Regions from separate parts of the Homo sapiens genome. Here region 2 is linked to region 1. A link means that fine-mapping ties the variant in region 1 to the expression of a gene that starts in the linked region. Tissue or cell type: whole blood. Region 1 holds a variant in brackets; the other region holds the start of a gene. All regions are shown on one strand. Distances are between the middles of the regions.

Region 1 (8,264 bases):
CCTGGGTGACGGAAGAAATGAACTGTATGTTTTCATGTTATATATTGAGAGGATAAGTCTGGAAATGTTACAAGTTGAGGAGGTAGGTTCCTACCCACAATACAAGAGAACAAAATGTAAGGAGTTGCTATTTTCTTCTTGTTGGAGGCATTCTCCCATCCTTTATGGTGAAAATATAGAAAGATTTGTCCAGTAAGTTGTTGAATGAATGACATGATGCTTTTTTTGTCTTTTTATTATTCTTTATTGGTTCTACCAATTTGACTCTTTACCCAGGCCACCTGTTGTTAGGCATGCAGGCTTTGTAGAAATTCACATATCGACATTACACTTGTAATATATAATTCTTTCACTTCAGAAAAATTGAGCAATTTAATACAACTCAAAAGAAGGTCAGAATTTCAGTTGCAAACTATTGAAAAATGACAGTAAGTAGAAGAGTGTCCATAAACATCAAAAAAATTCTGCCAAGGCTGCACTCAAAGGAAAATTTACTGTCTTCATTTTCAAGAATATTTTCAGTAGTAGACTGGAAAGAACATGAATTGACTAAGTTTTAAATTCAAGAATATCAAAGAAACAAAAAATCTAAGGAGAGAAAAGTTGAGATTTAACCAAATGTTCAGCTTACATGTTTTTTAAGCCTTCCTAGGTATTATTTTCTGTTTCTAGCTCTGTATGTCTTTGGCAAAGGTAAGTATTTATTACACACAACCTGCACAAGGTATTTTTAGATCTAAGTGATTCAGTTTAGAGTTTAACATCAATAGAAGCAAATTCACTGTTTAATGGGAGACTCCAGTTTTTGGTGGCAAGGTAATTATTGAATTGAGCTCATATGAAATTTACAAAGGGGAACTTTGTGTGTGCCATGAGGCATAAGAATCATTACAAGAAGGGAAATGGAACCTCCAAGATAATCTAAAGCTCAGTACTAAGGCCAGATGAGGATAGTTTGAGAAAGGATATTCTTATTTGTGAGCATAGATTCAAAATTTCACCTAGATTAAAAGCATTCCTTACACACAAAAGTATAAAAGATTAGTAACTCAAGAACAGCCATATATATGATAAAGATAATCCACTTGTGATAAATCTGGCTTATTCTAGGAATCCAAAGACATTTCTGGAAAATCCAAAAATGTAAGTTATCACACTAACAGATTAAAAGAGAAAAAATCTTATGATCATCCCATTAGATGCAGAAAATAAAATTGATAAAATTGAACATCCATTTATAATGAAAACATGTAACACAATAGAAATAACAGTTTTCTCAACCCAGTAAAATTCTTCAGCAGTCATTAGTCTTACTGATAATAAAGTATTTAGAGTGTTCTGTTTAAAATCAAGATAAAGATAAATGTGCTTTTTCACATTTTATTAAAGTCCAGGCCGGGTGCGGTGGCTCACGCCTGTAATCCCAGCACTTTGGGAGGCCGAGGCGGGTGGATCATGAGGTCAGGAGATCGAGACCATCCTGGCTAACAAGGTGAAACCCCGTCTCTACTAAAAATACAAAAAATTAGCCGGGCGCGGTGGTGGGCGCCTGTAGTCCCAGCTACTCGGGAGGCTGAGGCAGGAGAATGGCGTGAACCCGGGAAGCGGAGCTTGCAGTGAGCCGAGATTGCGCCACTGCAGTCCGCAGTCCGCAGTCCGGCCTGGGCGACAGAGCGAGACTCCGTCTCAAAAGAAAAAAATAAAAAATAAAAAAAAATAAAGTCCAAACTAGCCTAGTAATGCAAGAAAAGTAAATAATAGGAAAAGGAAAGAAACAGAAAGAAGGAAAATTTATTATAGTATCAATATTTACCTAGAAAGAATAAAATAATTGACAACTTATTAGGAATTAGAAGAATTCAATACCATGGCTAGATATGTTTAATATTCAAAAATCAATTGCATTTTTATTCTTTGGCAACAAACAGAAAACATATTTTTTAAAAATATGCCTTATGTATTAGGAAGAAAAATGCATAGGATCTGAATGAATCTAACAAAATACATATAGTATTTGTATGAAAATTTATTTTAATAATTCTAAGACATAAATAGAAAAATAAAACACATTTATGTGTATGAAGTTTCATGTAATGCAGTTCTCCCCAGCTGATGTTCAGATTCAAAGCAATTTCAGCAAGATTGTCTTGCAGGTCACTTTTCACTAAATGATGCTGGAATAGTCTATCTATATGAGAAAAACCATATGTTATACACAAATATCAGTTCTGGGCCTAGCCGTTTTGAATGTTCCTAAGCTGGATGTCTCTTTGACATGTCTTTATAAATTTATAATGCTCCAGGCTTTTCTTGATTTTCCTTGTGCTAGCCTTGGAATCAGCCATTTTTTCCAAGGAGCCCTGGTTCCTTTTAGAGGAGAATGGTATTTGGAAACCAAGACCTGAGTGGTATGTGCACTTATTACTACCAGTGTGTCCTTGTTTCTAGGCCCTTTCACTGCACGTATGTGCACACGTGTGTGTGTGTATGAAATCATGATTTCATAACTGTAGCTCCAATCCCAGCCCAATGCTATATAGAAAGGCAGACTAGTTAGGTACCTCAGAACTCACAGAAAAACACCACAGGCTGCCACCTCCTGAAACTCCATCCAGTGGCAGAAGACAATCAGAAAGAGGGTCCAGGGAAATGCTCTCCATCCTGTGGGTCTGGTATCTACTATTCCCTCCAGGGAGGCTGCCCATGCAGGTAGCAGCAGCGGAGATCTAACAGGTGCCCTGCTAGGACTAGGCACCCTAGGAAAGAGCCCTCTGCCCTCTGCCAACCCCCTACCCCACAGTCTGGTGTCTCTCACCCTCTATCCCATGGCAACAGGACATGGGAAATACATTCTTCCTGCATCGGCAGCATGATTTGGGGTGGAGACGGAGCACCAGGGCACCAGATGAATCAAGCTGACCACAATAGCACTAGCATTGCAAAGACTCTGAAAACTAAACTGTCATTGTAACTATAGCACACAGAAGTAGGCCAGGACTTGCGTGATAAACCTAAAAACAAAATGACTGTCTGCTGAAATAGAAATTTAAGATAGGATCCACAGTCTCTAACATAATATAAAAAATGTACTGGACACAATAGAAAAACCACTCATCATAGCAAGAATGGAGAAAACAACTTGAATGAGAAAAGACAACAAATGTCAACACTGAGATGAATAGGATGTGGGGATTATTCGACAAGGGTTTTAAAGCAGTCATCATAAAAACACTTCAATGAGCAGTTTTAAATACTCTGGAAGCAAATGAAAAGGCTATAAAATCTCACCACAGAATTTTTTTTTTTTTTAAAGAACAACTTGGTGATTATAGAACTGAAAAATACAATAACTAAAATTAAAATTCAGTAAATGGACTTGGTAGCGGAGTGAATATTACTGAGGAAGCAGTCACTGCTCTTGCAGATAGAACAATAGAAATCTCCCAATGTAAATTGAGAGAAAATCACAGGAAAAAGGACAGAGCCTCCGGGACCTATGGTGTAGTAACAAAAGATTTAATATTTGTATCATCAAAATTTCAGAAGGAATGGAAAAAGAG[AGT/T]GGGGCTGAATAGTATTTTAAGAAGTAATTGCTAAAAACTCCCCAAATTTGGTGAAAGACACACCTGCAGAGTGAAGACACTGAGCCATTCCCAAGTAAGACAAACCCAGAGAAATCCATGCCAAGATACATTATAAGTTAACTTTTAAAACGAAAAGAAAAAATCTTGAAAGCAGGTACGGAGAAATGACACATCACCTACAGGCAAAACTGACTTGAATTGTAGCAGACTTCTCATGTGAAATTAAGGAGGCCAGAAGGTTGTGGCAGAACATTGTCAAGATGAATTACATATCCAGTGGATGTTTCCCTTAGGAATGAAGGGGAAATAGACATTCTCCAATCAAGGAAAATTAAAATAATTTGTGGCTAGCAGAGAACCTTAAAGAATGGTTAAGGGGGAGGAGCCAAGATGGCCGAATAGGAACAGCTCCAGTCTACAGCTCCCAGCGTGAGCGACGCAGAAGACGGGTGATTTCTGCATTTCCATCTGAGGTACCGAGTGCATCTCACTAGGGAGTGCCAGACAGTGGGCGCAGGACAGTGGGTGCAGCATACCGTGCGCGAGCCGAAGCAGGGCGAGGCCTTGCCTCACTCGGGAAGCGCAAGGGGTCAGAGAGTTCCCTTTCCTAGTCAAAGAAAGGGGTGACAGATGGCACCTGGAAAATCAGGTCACTCCCACCCTAATACTGCGCTTTGCCGACGGGCTAAAAAAACGGTGCACCACGAGATTACATCCCGCACCTGGCTCGGAGGGTCCTACGCCCACGGAGTCTCGCTGATTGCTAGCACAGCAGTCTGAGATCAAACTGCAAGGCAGCAGCGAGGCTGGGGGAGGGGCGCCCGCCATTGCCCAGGCTTGCTTAGGTAAACAAAGCAGCCGGGAAGCTCGAACTGGGTGGAGCCCACCACAGCTCAAGGAGGCCTGCCTGCCTCTATAGGCTCCACCTCTGGGGGCAGGGCACAGACAAACAAAAAGACAGCAGTAACCTCTGCAGACTTAAATATCCCTGTCTGACAGCTTTGAAGAGAGCAGTGGTTCTCCCAGCACGCAGCTGGAGATCTGAGAAGAGGCAGACTGCCTCCTCAAGTGGGTCCCTGACCACCCAGCAACCTAACTGGGAGGCACCCCCAGCAGGGGCACACTGACACCTCACACAGCAGGTTATTCCAACAGACCTGCAGCTGAGGGTCCTGTCTGTTAGAAGGAAAACTAACAAAGAGAAAGGACATCCACACTGAAAACCCATCTGTACATCACCATCATCAAAGACCAAAAGTAGATAAAACCACAAAGATGGGGAAAAAACAGAACAGAAAAACTGGAAACTCTAAAACGCAGAGCGTCTCTCCTCCTCCAAAGGAACGCAGTTCCTCACCAGCAACAGAACAAAGCTGGATGGAGAATGACTTTGACGAGCTGAGAGAAGAAGGCTTCAGACGATCAAATTACTCTGAGCTACGGGAGGACATTCAAACCAAAGGCAAAGAAGTTGAAAACTTTGAACAAAATTTAGAAGAATGTATAACTAGAATAACCAATACAGAGAAGTGCTTAAAGGAGCTGATGGAGCTGAAAACCAAGGCTCGAGAACTACGTGAAGAATGCAGAAGCCTCAGGAGCTGATGTGATCAACTGGAAGAAAGGATATAAGCAATGGAAGATGAAATGAATGAAATGAAACGAGAAGGGAAGTTTAGAGAAAAAAGAATAAAAAGAAATGAGCAAAACCTCCAAGAAATATGGGACTATGTGAAAAGACCAAATCTACGTCTGATTGGTGTACCTGAAAGTGATGAGGAGAATGGAACCAAGTTGGAAAACACTCTGCAGGATATTATCCAGGAGAACTTCCCCAATCTAGCAAGGCAGGCCAACGTTCAGATTCAGGAAAGACAGAGAATGCCACAAAGATACTCCTCAAGAAGAGCAACTCCAAGACACATAATTGTCAGATTCACCAAAGTTGAAATGAAGGAAAAAATGTTAAGGGCAGCCAGAGAGAAAGGTCCGGTTACCCTCAAAGGGAAGCCCATCAGACTAACAGTGGATCTCTCGGCAGAAACCCTACAAGCCAGAAGAGAGTGGGGGCCAATATTCAACATTCTTAAAGAAAAGAATTTTCAACCCAGAATTTCATATCCAGTGAAACTAAGCTTCATAAGTGAAGGAGAAATAAAATACTTTACAGACAAGCAAATGCTGACCGATTTTGTCACCACCAGGCCTGCCCTAAAAGAGCTCCTGAAGGAAGCGCTAAACATGGAAAGGAACAACCGGTACCAGCAGCTGCAAAATCATGCCAAAATTTAAAGACCATCGAGACTAGGAAGAAACTGCATCAACTAACGAGCAAAATCCCCAGCTATCATCATAATGAGAGGATCAAATTCACACATAACAATATTAACTAAATATAAATGGACTAAATTCTCCAATTAAAAGACACAGACTGGCAAATTGGATAAAGAGTCAAGATCCATCAGTGTGCTGTATTCAGGAAACCCATCTCACGTGCAGAGACACACATAGGCTCAAAATAAAAGGATGGAGGAAGATCTACCAAGCAAATGGAAAACAAAAAAAGGCAGGGGTTGCAATCCTAGTCTCTGATAAAACAGACTTTAAACCAACAAAGATCAAAAGAGACAAGGCCATTACATAATGGTAAAGGGATCAATTCAACAAGAAGAGCTAACTATCCTAAATATATATGCACCCAATACAGGAGCACCCAGATTCATAAAGCAAGTCCTGAGTGACCTACAAAGAGACTTAGACTCCCACACAATAATAATGGGAGACTTTAACACCCCACTGTCAACATTAGATCAATGAGACAGAAAGTCAACAAGGATACCCAGGAATTGAACTCAGCTCTGCACCAAGCAGACCTAATAGACATCTACAGAACTCTCCACCCCAAATCAACAGAATATACATTTTTTTCAGCACCACACCACACCTATTCCAAAATTGACCACATAGTTGGAAGTAAAGCTCTCCTCAGCAAATGTAAAATAACAGAAATTATAACAAACTATCTCTCAGACCACAGTGCAATCAAACTAGAACTCAGGATTAAGAATCCCACTCAAAGCCGCTCAACTACATGGAAACTGAACAACCTGCCCCTGAATGACTACTGGGTACATAACGAAATGAAGGCAGAAATAAAGATGTTCTTTGAAACCAACGAGAACAAAGACACAACATACCAGAATCTCTGGGACACATTCAAAGCAGTGTGTAGAGGGAAATTTATAGCACTAAATGCCCACAAGAGAAAGCAGGAAAGATCCAAAATTGACACCCTAACATCACAATTAAAAGAACTAGAAAAGCAAGAGCAAACACATTCAAAAGCTAGCAGGAGGCAAGAAATAACTAAAATCAGAGCAGAACTGAAGGAAATAGAGACACAAAAAACCCTTCAAAAAATCAATGAATCCAGGAGCTGGTTTTTTGAAAGGATCAACAAAATTGATAGACCGCTAGCAAGACTAATAAAGAAAAAAAGAGAGAAGAATCAAATAGACACGATAAAAAATGATAAAGGGGATATCACCACTGATCCCACAGAAATACAAACTACCATCAGAGAATACTACAAACACCTCTACGCAAATAAACTAGAAAATCTAGAAGAAATGGATAAATTCCTCGACACATACACCCTCCCAAGACTAAACCAGGAAGAAGTTGAATCTCTGAATAGACCAATAACAGGAGCTGAAGTTGTGGCAATAATCAATAGTTTACCAACCAAAAAGAGTCCAGGACCAGGTGGATTCACAGCCGAATCCTACCACAGGTACAAGGAGGAACTGGTACCATTCCTTCTGAAACTATTCCAATCAATAGAAAAAGAGGGAATCCTCCCTAACTCATTTTCTGAGGCCAGCATCATTCTGATACCAAAGCCGGGCTGAGTCACAACCAAAAAAGAGAATTTTAGACCAATATCCTTGATGAACATTGATGCAAAAATCCTCAATAAAATACTGGGAGCCAAAGACAAAAACCACATGATTATCTCAATAGATGCAGAAAAAGCCTTTGACAAAATTCAACAACCCTTCATGCTAAAAACTCTCAATAAATTAGGTATTGATGGGACGTATTTCAAAATAATAAGAGCTATCTATGACCAACCCACAGCCAATATCATACTGAATGGGCAAAAACTGGAAGCATTCCCTTTGAAAACTGGCACAAGACAGGGATGCCCTCTCTCACCACTCCTATTCAACATAGTGTTGGAAGTTCTGGCCAGGGCAATTAGGCAGGAGAAGGAAATAAAGAGTATTCAATTAGGAAAAGAGGAAGCGAAATTGTCCCTGTTTGCAGACAAAATGATTGTATATCTAGAAAACCCCATTGTCTCAGCCCAAAATCTCCTTAAGCTGATAAGCAACTTCAGCAAAGTCTCAGGATACAAAATCAATGTACAAAAATCACAAGCATTCTTATACACCAACAACAGACAAACAGAGAGCCAAATCATGAGTGAACTCCCATTCACAATTGCTTCAAAGAGAATAAAATACCTAGGAATCCAACTTACAAGGGATGTGAAGGACCTCTTCAAGCAGAACTACAAACCACTGCTCAAGGAAATAAAAGAGGATACAAACAAATGGAAGAATATTCCATGCTCATGGGTAGGAAGAATCAATATCGTGAAAATGGCCATACTGC
Region 2 (8,000 bases), 210 kb after region 1:
TCATAAGTGGGAGTTGAACAATGAGAACACATGGACACAGGGAGGGGAACATCACAGACTGGTGCCTGTTGGGGGATGGGAGGCAAGGGGAGGGAAAGCATTAGGACAAATACCTAATGCATATGGGGCTTAAAATCTAGATGACTGGTTGATGGATGCAGCAAACCACCATGGCACATGTATACCTATATAACAAACCCGAATGTTTCGCACATGTATCCCAGAACTTAAAGTATAATTAAAAAAAAAAATTGTTATTCTGCCTTTTTTGTATTAGAAATACAGTTTGGTAAATCCAGTTTACTTAAGACTTAAAACTGCTAGCTATGTATACAAAACAATAAACTATCAGAAAAGTGGCCAAAAATTAAGTAATTATTTCAACTTTTTATGACATCACTTTGGAAAATAACCTATTCCCTTTTAACTTGAGTAGTTAAAAAAGTTCTAACCTGTTTATGAAAAAAAAAAACAGAGTTAATGTGATATATATTTGATGCTACTTAGCAAAAAATTTTGGTAGTCCGACAAGTATAATTTATATATTGGAACAAACAAAACTCTGGAATACACAATCTATAACAAGCCAATTTACTACAGAGAAGGTATCCATAAATTATTTCATGCCAAAGGGTCTAATGTCAGATAAATTTTTGTTTTGTTTCGTTTTGAGACAGGGACTCATTGTCGCCCAGGCTGGAGTGCAGTAGGCAGATCTTCGCTCACTGTAACCTCCGCCTCCCAGATTCAAGCAAATCTCCTGCCTCAGCCTCCCAAGTAGCTGGGATCACAGGCATGTGCCACCACGCGCAGCTAATTTTGTATTTTTAGTAGAGGCGGGGTTTCACCGTGTTGTCCAGGCTGGTTTCGAACTCCTCACCTCAGGTGATCCACCCGCCTCGGCCTCCCAAAGTGTTAGGATTACAGGCATGAGCTACTGCACCCGGCCACACTTAGTATCCCTTGTTAAATGTTAAATTATCCCTTGTTAATTATTATCCCTTGTTAAATATTAAATTTTAAACAATTCAGTAAAAAGTTGAAATGAGTAAATATTTTGAAACAACTTTAAATGTTATGGTAGAACTCAAAAAAATCACTTAAAATGTTCTAAATGTTAAGTATATCAGTAAACTAGAAAAATGACATCTAGAAGCTAACACGCTATCTACAGAAGAATTTACTTCCACAAGTTACCCAAATAAAAGTGAAAAAAAAAAAAAGATCAAGTGATAAAGTTAATAGATGTTCATTTAAATTCAAATGAAGGAATTTTTCATTTAAAATACATCTGGCCTGATGCCTGTAATCCCAGTACTTTGGGAGGCCAAGGCGGGTGGATCACTTGAGGTCAGGAGTTCTAGACCAGCCTGACCAACATGGTGAAACCCCGTCTCTACCAAAAATATAAAAAATTAGCCAGGTACGGTGGTGCATGCCTGTAATCCCAGCTACTTGGGAGGCTGAGGCAGGAGAATCACTTGAACCCAGGAGGTGAAAGTTGCAGTGAGTGGAGATCGCGCCACTGCACTGAACTCCAGCCTGGGTGACAGAACAAGACTCCGTCTCAAAAAAAAAAAAAAAAAAAAAAAATCTGAGGACTTCAAAGGTGGAAAAAGTGCTAGAAACAAAATGAACTAACATTTTCCACAAGCCTAGTTTTGGGTCTTCAACACAGCAGTATTAGAAGATGGCTTTTACTTTGAGGTCCATGTCAAATGACAAAGTTATCATGCTTAACCAAGCGGACTGCTGAAAGGCATCACTTTTAAAACAAAGGTTTTACTTCAGTCACTTCTATTTAAAAGTTACAAATTACGACCAAGTATAGGAATCTTCCCTATGCACAATCTCAGCGCACATTTAGAACTAATGGTCATGACTGGGCGTGGTGGCTCACGCCTGTAATCCCAGCACTTTGGGAGGCCGAGGCGGGCGGATCACGAGGTAAGGAGATCGAGACCATCCTGGCTAACATTGTGAAACCCCGTCTCTACTAAAAATACAAAAAATTAGCCGGGCGCGGTGGCGGGCGCCTGTAGTCCCAGCTACTCGGGAGGCTGAGGCAGGAGAATGGTGTGAACCCAGGAGGCAGAGCTTGTAGTGAGCCGAGCTCCACTGCACTCCAGCCTGGGTGAGAGAGTGAGATTCCATCTGAAGAAAAAAAAAAAAAAAAAGAACTAATGGTCAACATGACCCACGGCAATTTTGAATACTTGGAAGAGCAGTCTAAGTACCCTCACACAAGTTAAAACCGTGTTAAGTCAGAGTCACAACTCAATGAGCCATGCACCTTTAATTTACACCTGGAAGTAAAATAGTTAAAGTGGAGAATTAGGTAGCTGATTAATCTATCCTGGGGCAAATCTTACATACTTTAATTAAAGCCTCTGAAAACACCTGATGTACAGGTTATAAAGAACAGATTCTAGACCAGTCATTCTAAGACTTATGCATGTAACACACACTTTCCAAAACTTTTTTTTTCGCTCTTGTTGCCCAGGCTGGAGTGCAATGGCGTGATCTCGGCTCACAGCAACCTCTGCCTCCCGGCTTCAAGCAATTCTCGTGCCTCAGCCTCCCAAGTAGCTGGGATCACAGGCATGTGCCACCACGCGCAGCTAATTTTGTATTTTTAGTAGAGGCGGGGTTTCACCGTGTTGTCCAGGCTGGTTTCGAACTCCTCACCTCAGGTGATCCACCCGCCTCGGCCTCCCAAAGTGCTGGGATTGAGACAGGGTCTTGCTCTCTCACCCAGGCTGGAGTGCAGTGGTGGGATCAAGGGTCACTGTAGCCTCAGCCTCCTGGGCTCAAGCGATGTTCCCACCTTAGCCTACCGAGTAGCTGGGACTACAAGTGCGCTATCACATGCAACTAATTTTTTAATTTTTTTGTGGAGACAGTGTTTCCCTTTGTTATCTAAGCTGGTCTCAAACTCCTGGGCTCAAGTGAGCCTTTCATATCAGTCTCTAAAAGTGCTGGCATTCCAGGTGTGAGGATATATTTCAAAATTACGCACAAACACGATTTTTTCACTCCCATCACTTTTCTCTTATTCCCTAGAGAACTTAATTTTTGCCAATAAGTCTTCTAAAATGTTACATTTCCTGTGGAATGCAAGAAACTAAATGCTTCATTAGCTAGTGGTGGCAATTACTATTTTTAATACTTCAAAAAAGCATTTCAATTTACTGTTCACTAGCACATTATGACATCATTCCCTTCCAGTGTTTGCTTGCTCATTAAATAATCCTGTTTCTATTTTGTTCTCTTGCCTTCAATACATAGATTGCAAATATTCCATTTCAGATGCTGCATTAATGATTCAGTGAGGCTGCTGAAAAACGCCTTTATATTTGAACGGTTTGGTAATACACTTTCTCTTATTGCGGTTGATATGGAGAGATTAATCTCTCACCAAAAGGCAAAATCTGGAGAAGATGAAATAGCAAAACTAAGGACCAATGGGAAGGGGGAGGCAAAGTCAATCGACAACCGTACCTAACAGGAGAGATTCCAAGGCTTCCATCAGATAAACAAAGGAAGCTGATTTTTCTACGGAGGCTGCATGTGCTGCAAGCTACCTGAAGCATTAGTATGCAAGCCCACTGAGCCTATTACCTTGAAAGCAGAGTCCAAGCACTGAATTTTTCTAGACTCCCATTATAGGTGGACACCCAGAAAGCCAGTGGAGACAATGATGGACGGGGAAGAGAGTGGGGCCGGTCTTCGATGCTTTCCTCCCACTCCACCAAAGCAGAAGTTAAAAACCTACAACCTACACGTATCAACCAGCTCCTCCGCTGCTCAACCATTTTTCAGGGGCAGAAGGAAGAGGTTGTGGGGGCTGGGCTTCATGTGGGGCGGGTGGGAGGAGCTGCAAAAGGAGTCAGGTTGAGAGGCGAAGGGTCGCAGGCGCTGTGGGGAGGACTGCACGACGCGAGCTGAGCACACAGAAGCAGGGCAGGGGGGCCCCGGAAGGGGCGAACGCCCGAACGGCTGGGGGCGGGGGCGGGCCCTTTCCTCACCTGGCAGCCCTTCTTGTGGTGAAATCCGACCACCACGATGTGCAGTACGGGCCCCCGGGGGACGCCATCCCCGCCTCTCCTGGCCTTCTCCATGGGCGGCCGCCGCGGGCCCGCACGACGACTTCGACCGCCAAGGGCAGCGGGTCTGACGACCCCACCGTGTGCGGAAAGCCGCGGACTTCGGGTGTCAGCGAGCACAGCACATGAGGGCCGCACAGGGAGATCGGTGGAGGCAAAGCAGCTCCCGCCGCCCCCAGGGCCACGGCCGCCCTTCCCTCATCCGCTTCCGCAGCTTCCGGGCTGTCACCTGACACGGCGGCCGCCGCCGGCGAGGCAGGGCTGGGCAAGGCCGGGAGGGCCCTGACGGGGCGGGGTCTGAGAGGCCGAGGTGGAGCCTGGGGGAGCGGGGTGGGTCTAGGAGAGGAGAGATCGACTCTGTGGGGCGGGGAGGAGCGGGGGGAGGAGCGGGGGGAGGGCGGGTCCGGGTGGGACTTGACGAGGAGCGGCGGGGTGGGGCTTACGTGACCCGGGCGGCTGGGCTTGCAGAGCCTGTGGTGTCCGCGGGACCTGGAGGTGCGGCGTGGCACACCTGCTTTTTCCTCCCTGGATTCAATCTCAAAGCACTTCCTTCTCTTTTGCCTTCTCTTTTTCCTCAAAGTTTTCCCACTTCCCTCTTCTCTTCTGTTTTCCTTGCTTTTTCACATCTTTTCGGTTCACTCTCCGAGTGTCCGATTCCTTCACCTCCTTGCCTTTGCCTCTGTGGCCCCCGTCCTTATTCTTAAATATGTAGTAACATGGAGCATACTGGTGAGGTTGCGTATCTGTGTATTCAGCCTTTAAATTACTTGCTTACTCGAGAATTCTTGTTTGTTTCTTTCTAGAGTTTTTTTTTCTTCGTTTAAATATTATGTGTAGGAATCTGAGACGCATTTAAAACCTGAAACAGAATATCCTTGACAACAAAGGAAGTTTACTTGGATACGTGTAAAATGATTATTCTAGTCCTGCGATTTTATAAGAATATTCTTTTCATTCCATCTCATTTTGGGTGTAGTACTCTGGTCAATACAAAATATATGGGCTCTGTTGTCACCAGGGTTTTTTAATTCCTTTACTGATTGTACTACAATTCTTTTTTAAGCAGTGAATCTCATGTCAATTTAAAGTGCATTATAGAAAAGATTTAACAAGTCTTATCTAGGACAGTTTTCAAATAACCTAAAGGATAGGTGTCTGCTTCAAATAGAATTCGAGATTACTACAGTAACTGTGATATTTTGCACTTCTGGTCTTGAAAAGTAAGGAGCTCTGTTCTAATCTAACCATAGCTGAGAAAAACAGTAGGCTTCCTAAATCAAATTTAGTTTCTGTGATTCAGTAGAACTGTTTTAATGCTAATACTGCAGACATTTTTCAAGATGCTGCTATACATTTCTTTTCTGTATTACAAAATTATTGGCATTGGCTAAGAAAACTGTGTAAAACTATATTGCTCCCTGTATGCAGAATATATTAACTGTTTTCTTAATATATTAACTGTTTTGAGCTGTCAGCTGTGTGATGTGTTAACTATTAATATTTTCTTGATATAACCTGTCTTGATATTTTCCACAATTGGCATGGCTAAAATTACTGTCTAATTGAACACCTTTTAAAGATGTATATAAGGGCCGGGTGTGGTGGCTCACGCCTGTAATCCCAGCACTTTGGGAGGCCAAGGCAGGCAGATCACCTGAGGTCAGGAGTTCTAGACCAGCCTGGCCAACATGGTAAAACCCCCTCTCTAGTACAAAATACAAAAATTAGACCTGTAATCCCAGCTACTCGGACGGCTGAGACAGGAGAATTGCTTGAATCCGGGAGGTGGAGGTTGCAGTGAGCCAAGATTGCACCATCGCACTTCAGCCTGGGGGACAAGAGCGAGATTTCCTCTAAAAAAAAAAAAGATATATATAAAAAGAGGGTCAGGCGTGGTGGCTCATGCTGGTAATCCCAGCACTTTGGGAGGCCGATGCGGGCAGATCACTTGAGGCCAAAAGTTGGAGACCAGCCTGGGCAACATGGTGAAACCCCATCTCTGCTAAAAATGCAAAAATTAGCCAGGCATGGTGGTGTGTGTAATCCCAGCTACTAGGGAGGCTGAGGCAAGAGAATCACCCTAACCCGGGAGGTGGAGGTTGCAGTGATCTGAGATGGTGTCACTGCACTGCTCTCCAGCCCAGATGACAGAATGAGACTCCATCTCAAAAAAATAAAGAAAGGGAGAGAGAGAGAAAGAAAAAGTTAGTTACTGGGAAAATTGAGACAGAAAGTGAACAAGGGAATTTCCAGGATTTTTTTCATCTCTAAATACACAGACTGGACCACTTAAGAATTTAGAATATAGGTGGGGCATGGCGGCTCACACCTGTAATCTCAGCACTTTGGGAGGCCAGGGTGGGTAGATCACTTGAGTCCAAGAGTTCGAGACCAACCTGAGCAATGTAATGAGACCTCATCTCTACAAAAAATAATAAAAAATAAATAGCCAGACTTGGTAGCACGCGCCTGTGGTACTGGCTTCTCAGGAGGCTGAGATGGGAGGATTGCTTGAGTCCGCGAGCACACCACTGTACTCCTGCCTGGGTAACAGAGTGAGGTCTTGTCTCTAAATTAATAAATAAAATATGATGGGGTGTTGCTATGTTGCCCAGGCTGGCCTCAAACTCTTGGGCTCAAGGGATCCTCCTGCCTCAGCCTCCTAAGTAGCTGGGGCTACAGTTGCCTGCCACCATGCACATCTTACATTATGTTTTAAATGAGTTGTATTAATGTAGAATAAATTCATTAACAAGATATTGTCCACAAGGACAAATGTCTATTGGGAAAATAATAAAATTTCTAATTTAACTCGAGGGAGAAAATTAGAAATGCCTTTCTGAACATATAATACATGGAAGAGCCTTTGGTAGTTACATGTATTTTATGATAAATTATAAATTCTATTTTACGTCTTCTACTTAAGACTTAAAGGGAGAAAAATCCTTGAGACATAGAGCTATGACATATTTTCAAGTTCATAACAACTCTCCATTTGGAATTGGCCTGTTCTTCCTTTTTGTGTCTTGCCTCAGGAGAGAAAATAATAAAAATACCACTCCCTGAAATCCCCATTAACTCTACTATGTAAGTGAACTATATATCGTTCCTTTTTTCAGATTCTAAAGAGATTTTCTTTATTCTTTATTAGTGGCATTCAAAATTGCTAATGTTTATTCTGTTTTTTTTTTGTTGTTGTTGTTTTGAGATGGAGTCTCACTCCGTCGCCAGGCTGGAGTGCAGTGGCACGATTGGCTCACTGCAACCTCTGCCTCCCAGGTTCAAGCGATTCTCCTGCCTCAGCCTCCTGAGTACCTGGGACTACAGGCGTGTGCCACCACACCTAGCTAATTTTTGTATTCTTAGTAGAGATGGGGTTTCACCATGTTGGCCAGGATGGTCTTCATGTCTTGACCTCGTGATCCGCCCACCTCGGCCCCCAAAGTGTTGGGATTATAGGCGTGAGCCACTGTGCCCAGCCTATTTTTCTAATTTTTAAAAACTCTATCAAATAACAACAATGTTTTGAATTCTCCCATACTGTCAGTATGGTATGGGGAAAATAAAATAGGAATAGAAAAGGAAAACCAGGAAAAGAGGTGGTTTTCAACCAAATGAGGATTGGACAAAAAGAAAAAAAGAGAAAGAGAAAGAAAGAAGCGTCACAAACAAATCTGGCATTACTTCGTATTTAAAATCTTATGAAGAGTAAGGAGAATGTTGATGGGTGTGAATGAAATAGTGAGAATCAATTTAAAGAATATTCATTAGGCGCCCTACAGTGTGCCTGAAAATGTAGTGTGCACAGTGTATAAAATAAGAAATTGCTTCCTTAAAGTGGCTTATGTCTGGTTATAAAAATAAGATGAATGCAAAACCAGCTAGCAATGCTAG

Evidence for each region. PIP is the estimated chance that this variant, and not a neighbour inherited with it, causes the effect.
Region 2: AVL9 starts here. The variant in region 1 is fine-mapped to the expression of AVL9 in whole blood (INTERVAL, PIP above 0.99).

The regions. Positions count from the first base shown.
Region 1 is chr7:32,699,241-32,707,504 of GRCh38, reverse strand. It overlaps the pseudogene DPY19L1P1. Among named protein-coding and RNA genes, the nearest start is that of MIR550A2, 30 kb to the left of the region's middle. RefSeq lists enhancers at 3,794-4,294, 4,295-4,795. The variant AGT/T (reference allele first, on the strand shown) is at 3,561.
Region 2 is chr7:32,491,831-32,499,830 of GRCh38, reverse strand. It overlaps AVL9 (AVL9 cell migration associated), which reads right to left and starts at 4,342. Exons shown (of 16, transcript NM_015060.3): 1 at 4,029-4,342. The coding sequence starts at 4,121. It also overlaps a transcript of LSM5 not described here. RefSeq lists enhancers at 2,948-3,746, 3,747-4,545, 4,619-4,828 and a silencer at 3,879-4,528.